3 linked regions of the Homo sapiens genome follow. The protein of the gene in region 3 purifies or fractionates together with the protein of the main gene of each other region. This does not show direct contact. Each region holds a gene or a part of one and is shown on either strand. Other genes may lie near its edges. The genes, in order: DIS3L2, WDR76 and SPIN4.

The links.
Region 1: the proteins of SPIN4 (region 3) and DIS3L2 purify together in Homo sapiens (co-immunoprecipitation; one large-scale study listed by IntAct). This does not show direct contact.
Region 2: the proteins of SPIN4 (region 3) and WDR76 purify together in Homo sapiens (co-immunoprecipitation; one large-scale study listed by IntAct). This does not show direct contact.

The regions. Positions count from the first base shown.
Region 1 is NC_000002.12:232,332,065-232,335,712, reverse strand, and holds part of DIS3L2 (DIS3-like exonuclease 2), read right to left. Parts: intron 1,874-3,648; coding exon 1,726-1,873; intron 1,345-1,725; coding exon 1,214-1,344; intron 1,083-1,213; coding exon 978-1,082; intron 1-977.
Region 2 is NC_000015.10:43,836,896-43,840,543, reverse strand, and holds part of WDR76 (WD repeat-containing protein 76), read right to left. Parts: intron 940-3,648; coding exon 816-939; intron 1-815. UniProt on the Homo sapiens protein: Specifically binds 5-hydroxymethylcytosine (5hmC), suggesting that it acts as a specific reader of 5hmC.
Region 3 is NC_000023.11:63,348,415-63,352,827, forward strand, and holds the start of SPIN4 (spindlin-4), read right to left. Parts: upstream 2,919-4,413; 5' UTR 2,406-2,918; coding exon 1,656-2,405; 3' UTR 1-1,655.

The sequences.
Region 1 (3,648 bases), on a different chromosome or scaffold from region 3:
CCTGGAGGGCTTCAATGCTTGGAGGCGGCCCTCAGCCCTCGGCCCTGGCCCACCCTTGCCTGGCTGGAGGGAGCTTCAGGGAGGCCCTGCCAGGCCACCTTCAGCTGAGGCAGCAGGTGAGAGTGACCAAGGGCCAGGGGTGGGGGCTGGGAAGGCCCGTGGCTCTGTGTGCTATGGGGGGCAAGTGGTGGGGGGTCCAGGGCTGACTGCACTGAGGTGGGGACAGAGAACTGTGGCGGCGGAGCGCTGCGCCCCCTGCTGGTGCCATCTGTCAGTGCAGGCAGGGCTGGGCCCACAGCAGGGTGAGCTAGGCTTGAACTTCAGGATACAGAGCCCCCAGGGTCCGCAGGGGGACTCTGTCGTTCCTCTTCTGCCCAGCTCCCGGTTATGAACACCACGTTTACTGCACACAACGGGCTGGACACTGTACTCCCAGGGCACTCTGGATGTTAGGAAATTCAAAGCCAGGCACAGAGGCAGGTGGTGACCTGCAGACCCCAGGGCCAGCTGGAGCCAAGCCCCTAAGGCAGCATTAGGACAGGCCCATGTCCCCTTGGAGAGAGAACTGTGAGTCAACAGTCACTCAGGGCAGGAGCCGAGCCAGGGACAGCTCTCTTCCTTGTCTTCAGGGGACACAGTTTCCAAAGCGGCCACGGACCATTCGCTGGCCTTTCATTCCTTCACGTTCCTATAAACACAGTCCCCAAAGCCTGCACACCCTGCCGAGCTGTACTGGCCATGGAGGGGCCTGCTCTCTGGTTCCTGGGTCCTTGGGGAAGGGGGCCAGGCCTGACCCTGGGCCTGGAGCCACCATCCCAGGTGGGAGAGCTGGGCGTCTCAGCAAGGCCCATCAGGTGGGCTTTGTGCTAGGGCTGGGGGAGCGAGGGGTGGAGTGTGACCCATCACAGCCTGTGCCCCTCCAGTGCGGGATGGCTTGGGCTGCCCTGCCCGCCCCCGGGCTCTCCCAGGGCACTCACGTTGCAGTAGATGCGCTTCTGCACGCCGTAGCGCAGCACCAGCACGTCGAAGGCTTGCTTCAGGATGCCCATCACCATGGCTTCTGACTCCAGGGGGCCACTCTCCTGCAGGGACAGTGCTGCAGCCATGGCACCTCCTGGCACTGCCCTGGGCTCCTCGAGGCCTCCTGGTGAGCAGGTGCCCAGGAGGGTCGGGAGCCAGAGGGAGGTGAGGGGCACCAGGCTGGAGGGCTCACCTTGACCAGAACAGCAAAGAAGAGACTGGTACTGAGCTCCTGCACGCGCTTGGACGCCATGCGGCGGTCGTTACAGTGGTCCGCCTGTTTCTGCAGGGTATCGGGCGCCATGTCTAGTCGCTCCCTATAGCCTGGGAAGAGGGGGTGAGGCATGAGAGTGGGAGCCTGGGGGGCTGGGAAGAGCTATGGCTGGGGGATGGGCTGCATGGCGCTGCACCCCCGCCGACAGATTAGGACCCCAAGCACCCAGCTCCCAGGGCAGCAGAAAGCGGCCCTTCGAGGTCAGCGCCCTCCTCCCGGCTGTGTCCAGGGCTGGCTGTGGGCTCCATGCAGCTTCTGCAGCACCGGCCCGTAGGGAGAGTTTCCAGGCCAGGCTCCCCTGCACTTGGGTCGCCCGACCCTTGGACCTCCGCTGTCACGGCAGAATGGTCTTGGGCCACTGAGCACCCACTGTGGGGGTGGGCAGCCCTGAGCTGGCCCAGGTCTGCCCTGACCCCGACTGCACCCCTCACCTAACGCGGCAGCCAGGAGGCGGTGCACCAGGACGTCGGCAAAGCGGCGGATGGGCGAGGTGAAGTGTGTGTACAGGGGCACATTGAGCGCGTAGTGCCGGAACTGCGCTGGGTCCTGCAGCAGCCCCGAGCAGAAGTACAGTGCCATCTGCGGGACGGGATGGGTCAGAGCCTGACAAGCCCAGAGCTGCCCAGCCAGGCCTGGAAGGCTGGCACCACCCACAGCCTCACCGTCGGCAGCGATGTGTGGACAGACCTAATGGGCTGCTGGTTGCTGAGTGACGCCAGGGAGGACTGGGGCCAGGGCCCTTGCTGCACAAGGGGCCCCAGGGGGAGGCCAGGAGGCTGGGCAGAGCCCAGGGGTACCCATGTCCTTTCCAGGAGACAAATCTGGCCTGCCTGGGCCTCCCAGATGCCCTCAAGGTGGCAGCACTGAGAATGGCCTGGACAAGCCCACCCTGCTGAGGACCAGGGAGCCAGGAACCCCCAGGATGCTGTCAGGGTAGGGGGCACGAGCTGAGCCTCCGAAGTCCAGTCCCTGCTGAGTCACTGCTGAGCACCACCAGGAGGGAAGAGTCTCTGGCCTACCCTTCCCCAGCATGGGGCCGGGGCTGCTACTCTCGCCCAGGAAGAAGGAAGAAGAAAGAAAGGTAGCGGCGGGGGGTGGGGGAGGAGGAGGAGGAGGTGGCGATGGCAGAGGTGGAGGCAGAGGAGGAGGAGGAGGCGACAGCGGAGGAGGAGGAGGAGGAGGAGGAGGAGGCGACAGCGGAGGAGGAGGAGGAGGAGGAGGAGGAGGAGGAGGAGGAGGAGGCGACAGCGGAGGAGGAGAAGGAGGAGGTGGTGGAAGGAGGAGGTGGTGGTGGTCGAGGAGGACAATGAGGAGGAGGAAGAGGAGGAGGCCGCCTGCGGTTTTGTTGGACCAGGGGCTGCAGACGCTGTCTGCTGGAGACACAAGCAGAAGCCAAGGAGCCTGTGGGTCTTTGTTCAAGGAGGCAACGTCCATCCTCCCATCTGGCCAGAGTGGGAGGAGGGAGAGAAAGCCCAGGATGCGATCCCCTGCCCTGTGCAATACGGGCCTCAGGCTCTTGGAGCTTCCTCTCCAGCCTAGGCCCACCTTTGGTCGGGGCCGTCCTCATCCCCTCTGGCACTGATCCCGCCCAGCTGAAGCCACGCTTCACCCGGGCACCTCTGTGCTCGCCAATACTCCACCCCACAGCAGTCAAGGGAGGCAGTTTCCGGCCTGCCAGCCTCGGCCCTTCTCGTCTCTGACACCTGACCCTCCCGGGGGCTGAGACACAGAGGGCTGAGTTCCAAAGGCCCTTGTGCTGGGCAGGAGGCAGGACTGGGGCAGGGGGAGATACCGAGAGTCTCTAGGGACCAGCGCATAGCCCGTCCCAGCTGGGGCCACAGCCCCTGAAGCTGTTTGTCCTGCAGTCCCCGAGCTTTCAGGGCTGGGTGTCAGGGCCAGTGCTACTGCCTGGGAGCGAGTGAACGGGTTCCTCGCAGAGGTCCAAGGTCACGCCTGTATGTCTCTCTGGCTCCCTTGCTCCCTGGCTGCTGTACACACTCACCCTCCTGTGCCCTTGGCCAGACAGACAGCCGGCTCCCGTTACTCTGTGCACACGGGCCCTGGAATCCAGGGCGCAGCTGATGGTGACCTGCTCCGCTCCCTAACTCCACTTCCCTTCCAGCCCCTGCTGGGCCCTGGGTTAAGTCGGGGGCAAGTCTCTGGGGGAGGTGGGCACAGCCTCCACTCCCAGACATGTCTGGGCTTTGTTCTCAGTGGTGGCCCAGTTCCCCAGATGACCTGGGTGAGGTTGATGAAGGGCCCTGGCCCCTCTTGGCTGGTGGAGGTGGCTCAGGGTCGGGTGGGATGGGTGGGGACCATGGCTTTCCCACAGGCCCAGCCATCCCTGGGACAGC
Region 2 (3,648 bases), on a different chromosome or scaffold from region 3:
TATTAAAAATAGGTGTTCTTGAATAAAAAATATTTAGAAAATGTTTGCTAAATAAAACTCTACTCACTAAAACTACACATTATCACGTATTTATTAACATTAATAACTATATTCTATTGATTACTAAGCCCCTAATATGTGAGAAACTTTATAGATATGATTTCATTTATCTTTACAGTAGCTCTTTGAGGTTTTTTTTTTAAACTGACATAAAATTGTACATATTTACTGAGGGTTCTATTATTGCTGACTTTTTTTTAATGGAGAAACAATCAGAAAGGTTAATTAACTCACCCACAATCCTAAGCAGGTAAGTCCTGCAGAAATACAGAATCCAATACAGTCTTTACGACTTCGAAATCTTACTCATTAAAGCGTACAAATGGGCCGGGCACAGTGGCTCACACCTGTAATCCCAGCACTTTGGGAGGCCGAGGCAGGCAGACCACTTCAGGTCAGGAGTTCAAGACCAGCCTGGCCAGCATGGTGAAACCCCGTCTCTACCAAAAATAAAAAAAATCAGCCAGGTATGGTGGCATGTGCCTGTAATCCCAGCTATTCGGGAGGCTGAGGCAGGAGAATCGCTTGAACACGGGAGGAGGGGGTTGCAGTGAGGCAAGATCATGCCACTGCACTCCAGTCTGGGCGACAGAGTGAGACTCCATCTCAAAAAAACAAAACAAAACCATACAACATTCAAGTATTAATGAAATATAAAATTAAACATAATTTAATGAACTTTTAGTCTAGTTTCAACACTTCAAATTTTTCAGTATTTTATTACATTAAAATATTATATTTGCACATTTCCTTACAGTTTCATCTGCTACTAATGTCGGCGGTGTTGGAGCTGCTGGTAATGAAACTCCCGAAGGATCAACTTTTAGTAATCGCATTGACCTTCTACATCCAATCCCATTTTCTCTCTTAGGCTTCTTTCTAAAGGAGTGGGGAAAAACTCATGTTATACTCACAAAACAATAAAATGTATTTACTAATACTAAAGAGATAACTTCTAGGAATATATACCACAGATATATTTATAAACTGCATAGATATATATATACATGGCCACAATTATCTTAATAAGAAGTATGGAAAAAACAAACCTAAATGTTCATCAAAAAGAGGTGAGGTCTGTTAAATTATGGTATACATATCTAATAGAATAATACGCAGCCATAAAAAGAATGATATAGATCTTTATGCACTGCTGAAAGGAACCCTTGGTTATAAAAAGCAAAAACAAAGTCCAGTACATGTATACAAAAAGGTTACATATACACATACATTTGTACATGCTGAGGTTACCTTTGGAGGAATACACATAAAACTACTACTTCTAGGGAAAAGGCCTGGAAAACTAAGGTCTAAAATAGGAAGGAAACTTAAAACGTTTCACTGCATTCCCTTCCATACACTGTAGTTTACTTTTTAAATAATATACATTCTCTATTTTTTTATGCACTATTTTTTCATTTTTAAAAAAGTAATTCATTTTAAAATGTTGGGGAAAGAGAAGCCTCTGAAATTATTTCCAAAAATTCACATAAAAAATTATCAGTTATAGTCCACATTACTTCGAGAATTAGTAAAACCTACTGATTGAAAGTATACTATATACTAAAAACTGTAGTCAACATTCCATCTCATATTTAATCCTCAAAAAAGACACCTGAGTATATGGAATAATATGGGCTGTCATACAATCCTAGAAATCTACTCCTAGAGAAACTCCCATACATAAGCACTAAGAGACTTAAGAATGTTTGGAGCAGCACTTTTCATAATAAAAATAACAACTCAATTGTTCATCAACAGTAGAATAAAATGTAGTACATTCATACAGTGGAATATCATATAGCAGAAAAAAAGAACGAAATAAAGCTGTGCGCATCAACATGGGTAAATTTAAAAGCATAAATATGTAAAGATGAGCAAAATAAGAAAATCTCAGAATATAAAAAAGGCATATTGTATGTGAACACCAAAAAAAGACAAAGCTAAACAATATAGTGTTTAAGGATACACTCACTGGTAGTAAAACTATAAATCAATAGCCAGGCACAGTGGCTCACACCTGTAATCCCAGCACTTTGGGAGGCTGAGGTGGGTGGATCACTTGAGGTCCAGAGTTCCAGACCAGCCTTGCCAACATGGCGAAACCCCGTATCTACTAAAAATACAAAATTTAGCAGAGCATGGTCATGAGCACCTGTAATCCCAGCTACTCAGAAGGCTGAGGCATGAGAATTGCTTGAACCTGGGAGGCAGAGGCTGCAGTGAGCCAAGATTACACCACTGTACTCCAGCCTGGGCAACAGAGCAAGACTCTGTCTCAAAAAAATAAATAAATAAAAATGAAACTATAGGCTGGGCACAGTGGCTCACGCCTGTAATCCCAGCACTTTGGGAGGCCGAGGCAGGCGGATCACGAGGTCAGGAGATTGAGACCATCCTGGCTAACACGGTGAAACCCCGTCTACTAAAAATCCAAAAAATTAGCCGGGCGTGGTGGCGGGCGCCTATAGTCCCAGTTACTCGGGAGGCTGAGGCAGGAGAATGGCATGAACCTGGGAGGTGGAGGTTGCAGTGAGCCGAGATCGCGCCACTGCACTCCAGACTGGGCAACAGAGCGAGACTCCATCTCAAAAAAAAAAAAAAAAGCAATAAATAAATGCAAGGAAATATTACCACAAAATTCAGCATAGTGGTTGTATCGGGAGGGAGGGGTATATATGGGCCTTCAGGGGTATTCGTAATTTCTATTAACCTGGATGGCAGGTACATGGATGGGACCTGTATAATTTTTCAACTACACAAATACATTATATGTACCTTTTTATATGTATATTTAATAATTTTCAAAAAATTTAAATCCTTCTAGATTAGCATAATGCCAGCTTTACAGAAAGAAAAATTATATAAAGTATCCAAGGTTACTGTCATAGCTGTAAGTGACTGAATCAAAACTTGAACCCAAATTTGCTAAATCTCAAAGGCTACACTTCTGCGCTACATTACACAACTTCCATACTATCAACTTGCTACTGCCTATACAACTATTAAGGGCTAGAATTTTGTGATTTAGGAAGAAATCACCAATCTTGGCTAATAAAAAAATGCAAATGTAAAGCTACTAATCAGCGGGCAACAGGACCAGTGCTACTGTTTTTCCAGTGTTAATGATGTTCCTCTTATAGTAACTTTTCACACTTGAAAATACCTGGCCATGATTAAAGGTCCAGCTTTTCTCAAGCTAATTGTCCTGTAACAGAATCAAACCAAGTAAATGAAGCTACATTTCATTAGGAACTGGCACTAAACAAATGAGCTAATGATACCAAGATTTTAGTTTCTTCATTTATATGTAAGCACTGCTAAAATGCAATGGAGATAATTCAAAATTTAAACACCCTTGAGTTCAAATCCTAAAGCTACCACTTATAAGCTGTTTTGACTTTCAGCAAATAGTTGTTTTTTTTTGTTTTTTTTTTTTTTGTGAGATGGAGTCTCACTCTTATTGCCCAGGCTGGAGTGCAATGGTGCAATCTTGGCTCACCATGACCTCTGCCTCCCGGGTTCAAGCGATTCTCCTGCTTTAGCCTCTTGAGTAGCTGGGATTCAGACATGTGCCACCACACCCGG
Region 3 (4,413 bases):
CAATAACAAGACCAAAAGATTTCAATGATGTACGAAGACTCTTGAGTGCTAAGATTTAATATTATTAAAGAGCCCTCTAAACAAAAATGCAGGATTTTAATTGTGATGTCAGCCATCATAATTAGAATTTTATTAAAATTCTGCATTTCATTTTTTCACATGAAAAAATGAATGTCTAGGACATATTATATAAAGAAAAAAAAAACTAATGAAGTGGGACTTGCTTTATCGGATTCTAAAACTTACGATGAAGCCACTATAATTAAATCATGATATTGGCTCAGAAATTTGAAAATGGGTAACATTTTAAATAAATGTCACAATCAGGTATCCAATGTGAACAAAATGTTATAGCTGGATCCCCATCTTACACCATATACAAAAATAAATTTCAGATGGATCAAACATTTAAACATTAAAAATAATAAAGTTATTAGAAGAAAATGTAGGTGAATATTTGTATGACTTTGGGTGGGGGCATCCATGTGATAAAAAAAGGAAACCAAAATCTATAAAAGAGATAAGGGTCTACCTAAAAAGTTTAAAAATTTTAAAGGAAAATATATCATCAATAAAGTCAAGATGAAAACGTCATAACACATTAGAGCTACAAATGATTAATATGCACTATGTAGTAAGAATTTCTACAAATTTATAATGAAAAACATCAATAGATACATGAGCAAAGGGTAAGAACAGGCAAATCAGAGAAAAATCCAAACAGAAACAAGGACAGCAACAACAACAAACCTCTTTGAACTCAGACAAAAGGCAATTAAACTAACAAGCAATACAATGCAATTTTTAGCCTTTCATATTTTCAAGCATTAAAGAGTGCTGGAGAGGACGCTGGAACGGGCGCTTTCATTTTGGATAGTAATCTTGTAATATTTCTGAAACATATGCCTACATAGTATTTCTGGGAATCCAACCTATATAAATAAAAGCACCAGTATGTATTACAGCAGTGTTATTTTGAAAAAAAATAAAAAAAGGAAATAAAAGACGATCAATAACGAAATGGTTGAATGCCTTTTTGGTACATCAACAAGTACTGTGTATTCAGCTGTTAGAGTAAGGGAGGGAGGGGGAGAGCAAGAGTGCAAGAGAGTAAGAGTGAGGGCCAGAGAGAGCCAGAGAGAGCAAGAAAGACTGAAGCTACTGATAAGAAGAGATATCATCTACATGTCAAGTGAGAAAAGCATGTGGCTTGCCATTTTTACAGAAACTACTAGAACATACTTTCTGCATGAAGATGGGGAAAATAGGTGGAAGGATGTACTTCGCATCCTCAACACTTGTTTTCTGGGAAGAAACAAGGTAAGGAAAGGAAGGGGTAAGGACGGGGTGTGGGTTTACACCATTAATTTTTCTTAATCTATTTTTGCATTGTTCCAATGGTTGCAAACACTTTTTAATTTTCTATTAGCACCCAATTTAACTGTTAAGTTACAGAACAAGGCAATATCAAAAGTAGCAAAGTACACTTGAGGCAAAATTGTGAAACTAGTCAAGGTAAGATTTGTTGGCACAATAAAATTTATCCACTTTCCTGAATTTCTGACACCTAAACTCTTCTCTGCGTTCACAACTACGAGAACACAAAATAATTCACATCTAACAGATCCACAACTTCTCTAAAGAGCACAAAGAATTTAAGGAGTTTTCACCAAACCATAGACATAAATGTGAATATCATCATCAAACTTAATGAAGTAAACAGATGGCTTCGCCACCACTTGATGTATAAAAATGCCAGTTCTCTTGGACCCGTCATCTTTGGCATGCTCCACCTGCTTGCCCACGAGACTGTCGACCACCTCTCCAGGCTCCTGTTCTGCTGTAGGGAAATAGTAGTTGGAATCTGGAATAATGCGTAAGTCACCATCTTTGTAGTCATCAAGCAGCGTGTACATATAGAGAACAGGATCTTTCTCGTAGGTGATGTAAAACCAAGTATCCATCACAGGAGCTCGCGCCAGGACCATACCCTTCCATTCATCCTTGGTACCATGTTCACCTTCAAACACATGCTCCACTGCCTTGCCAATCAGGGAATCTGCCAGTCGTGAATCGATACGAGGAGTTGGCACTCTCTCAGGAAGGATCTCTAGCGCTAAAACTCTCTTATCGCGGTGCAGTTCTAGTCCATACACACTATCTTTGCCATCATATTTAATGATGTAAAGAGTGGGCTTCACGGAAACCTGCTCGAGCACAGTACCCTTCCACTGCTCCACTGGCTCGTTGCCTTCCTTCCAGCCGTGTTGAATGCGGCAGCCCACGATGTTCCTACGAGTGAGGAAAGTGGGCTTGCGCCGTTGCTTCCTGTGGGTGTGCCTTTTCTTCATCAGGTATGCGGACACGCCATCTACCCCCATCGGAGGCACGGTTGGAGGAGACATAGCTCAGGGATTAAGAGGGCTTGGGGAAAGCTGCTGCCCTGGTCGATTAAACTGACAAAAAGTCAACACTATGCAATATGATATATATATTTTTTGCGATCTCAAAGACCTGGTCTGTGCTCCCTTCTCCAAGTGCAAGGCTCTCACCAAGGTTTTGGCAGAAACGCTCGAACTCTAACCGTGAGCACTGGGACAGCGTGTGCCTCTCCACAGTGCTTTCCTCTCTCGCCCTAGAAGGGTTACTGCAGCAGTGGCGGCTGACGTAGAGATGGCGGGCTCGCGAGTGCTGTTCGTGCCTTGCGTCCGCCCCAACCCCGACCCCAAGTCCCCGAATCGGCCACTTAGCTGTTGTCGATGCTGGTGCGGCTGCGGCACGGCGGCAGAGGAGACGACGGGGACGAAAGGCAAGGAGTAAGAGGGATGGCTGCAGCGGCAAAGGCGCAGGCGGCGGCAAGTCTCTGGGGAGTCCGCGCGGCCTGGGCTTCGCAGCGCTAGCTGGCTTGGCTTCACTCTGGCGACCGGGTCTTTGCGGCGCAGGGAACCCGCCCCCTCTGAGCCCGCCTGAGCCTTGGCCCCGCCCCCAGCCATCCCGCCTTCCGCTCTGCGGGCGGCAGCCGGGCTGGTCAGCGCGCGTGCCCGTGTTCAGTTTGTATTGACACACGCGCCCTCTCTTTCATTTCCTCCTCCGCCCCTCGACCGTTTCCCTCAAACGCCAGCCAGACAGGCCGACTCCCCTCCTCCTCCTTTCTGGCGGTCTGCTGCCCGCCAGCCTCCTACACAGTGGCTCCATCTGCTTTCTGTCTTCCAGGAATTCCTCACTTAAAAAAAAAAAAAATGTAAAACACACGCACACCCAGAAAGAGTTTGTGCATACAAATTATTTTCTTTCAGTTTAAGATATTTAAGATGAGAATAAAAACCCTGTGTACAATTTACAGACCACCATCTTAATCCAAAATCTGTTTTATATTTTCTACCTGATCATTTCTAGTAATTATTTTTATTTTTTTTTTTTTTGTCAGAATGTAAAGGTCATGTACTGACATTGTGGAGATCTTCTAAAATTCAGTGAAATAAAAGACGAAACTACCATTAATTTTACCATCCAGACTGCACCAAAATGTTAACAATACTGTTTTCTCTCCTATTAATAAACCTGTACTTATATTTTATAAAATTGGGAGCATATTTCATACTTTTATAACTTGTGTTTTTCATGTATATCATGAACATTTTCCAAGATTGTTAAATACTCTGAAAACATGATTTTTAATAGTAATATTAAATATTTGTAATATTCCTTTTGATAGTCCACTATTTATCCTACATGATCTATAACATAAGTATAAATAAAAACATTTTACCTTCATAAATGGATTTATTGTCTAAACCATTTTTTAAAAGAAGATTTAATGACATGGAGAGCTGCACATGAGATGAGTACAATGAAAAAGCAAAATATTGAAACAATATTGTGGTCTTAATTTTGTAGAGAGAGAAAGAAGGGATTTTTTGTGTATATATTTGCTGTTTTTCTGATTATAAAAGTGCTGCATGCTTATATCGAAAACCTGCAAGAAAAGAAAGTGTCCATAATTTCACTTACCTTAAGTCACAGAGCTGCTATGAGGATTAAATGAGAATGTCTGTAAAGCTTTTAACACTATATCCCACTTACAAGATGACATTAAAATCCAGAAGAGTCTAGGGTTCTCATTTTCATTCCTCTACTCTTCACTGGTGAAAAGAGAAAGCGTCATATAATCATGAGTAAAAAAGGCAATTAATTCACCTGGAAACAAAACCGGGGCAAAAGCTGCAAGGTGTCAATACTGGTTGCCTGAACATTTCATTACCTTCCAAGTCAGTGACAGAGAGACCTAGTCCTCATTCTGTTTAATAGCTGGTCACACAGAATGTGTAAGGATCCTCCAGTTCACCATGTTTCCCAGGCAAAGGACTTCAGAGATGGGATAATTCTTTAATGCCATATTACAAGATAGTAATT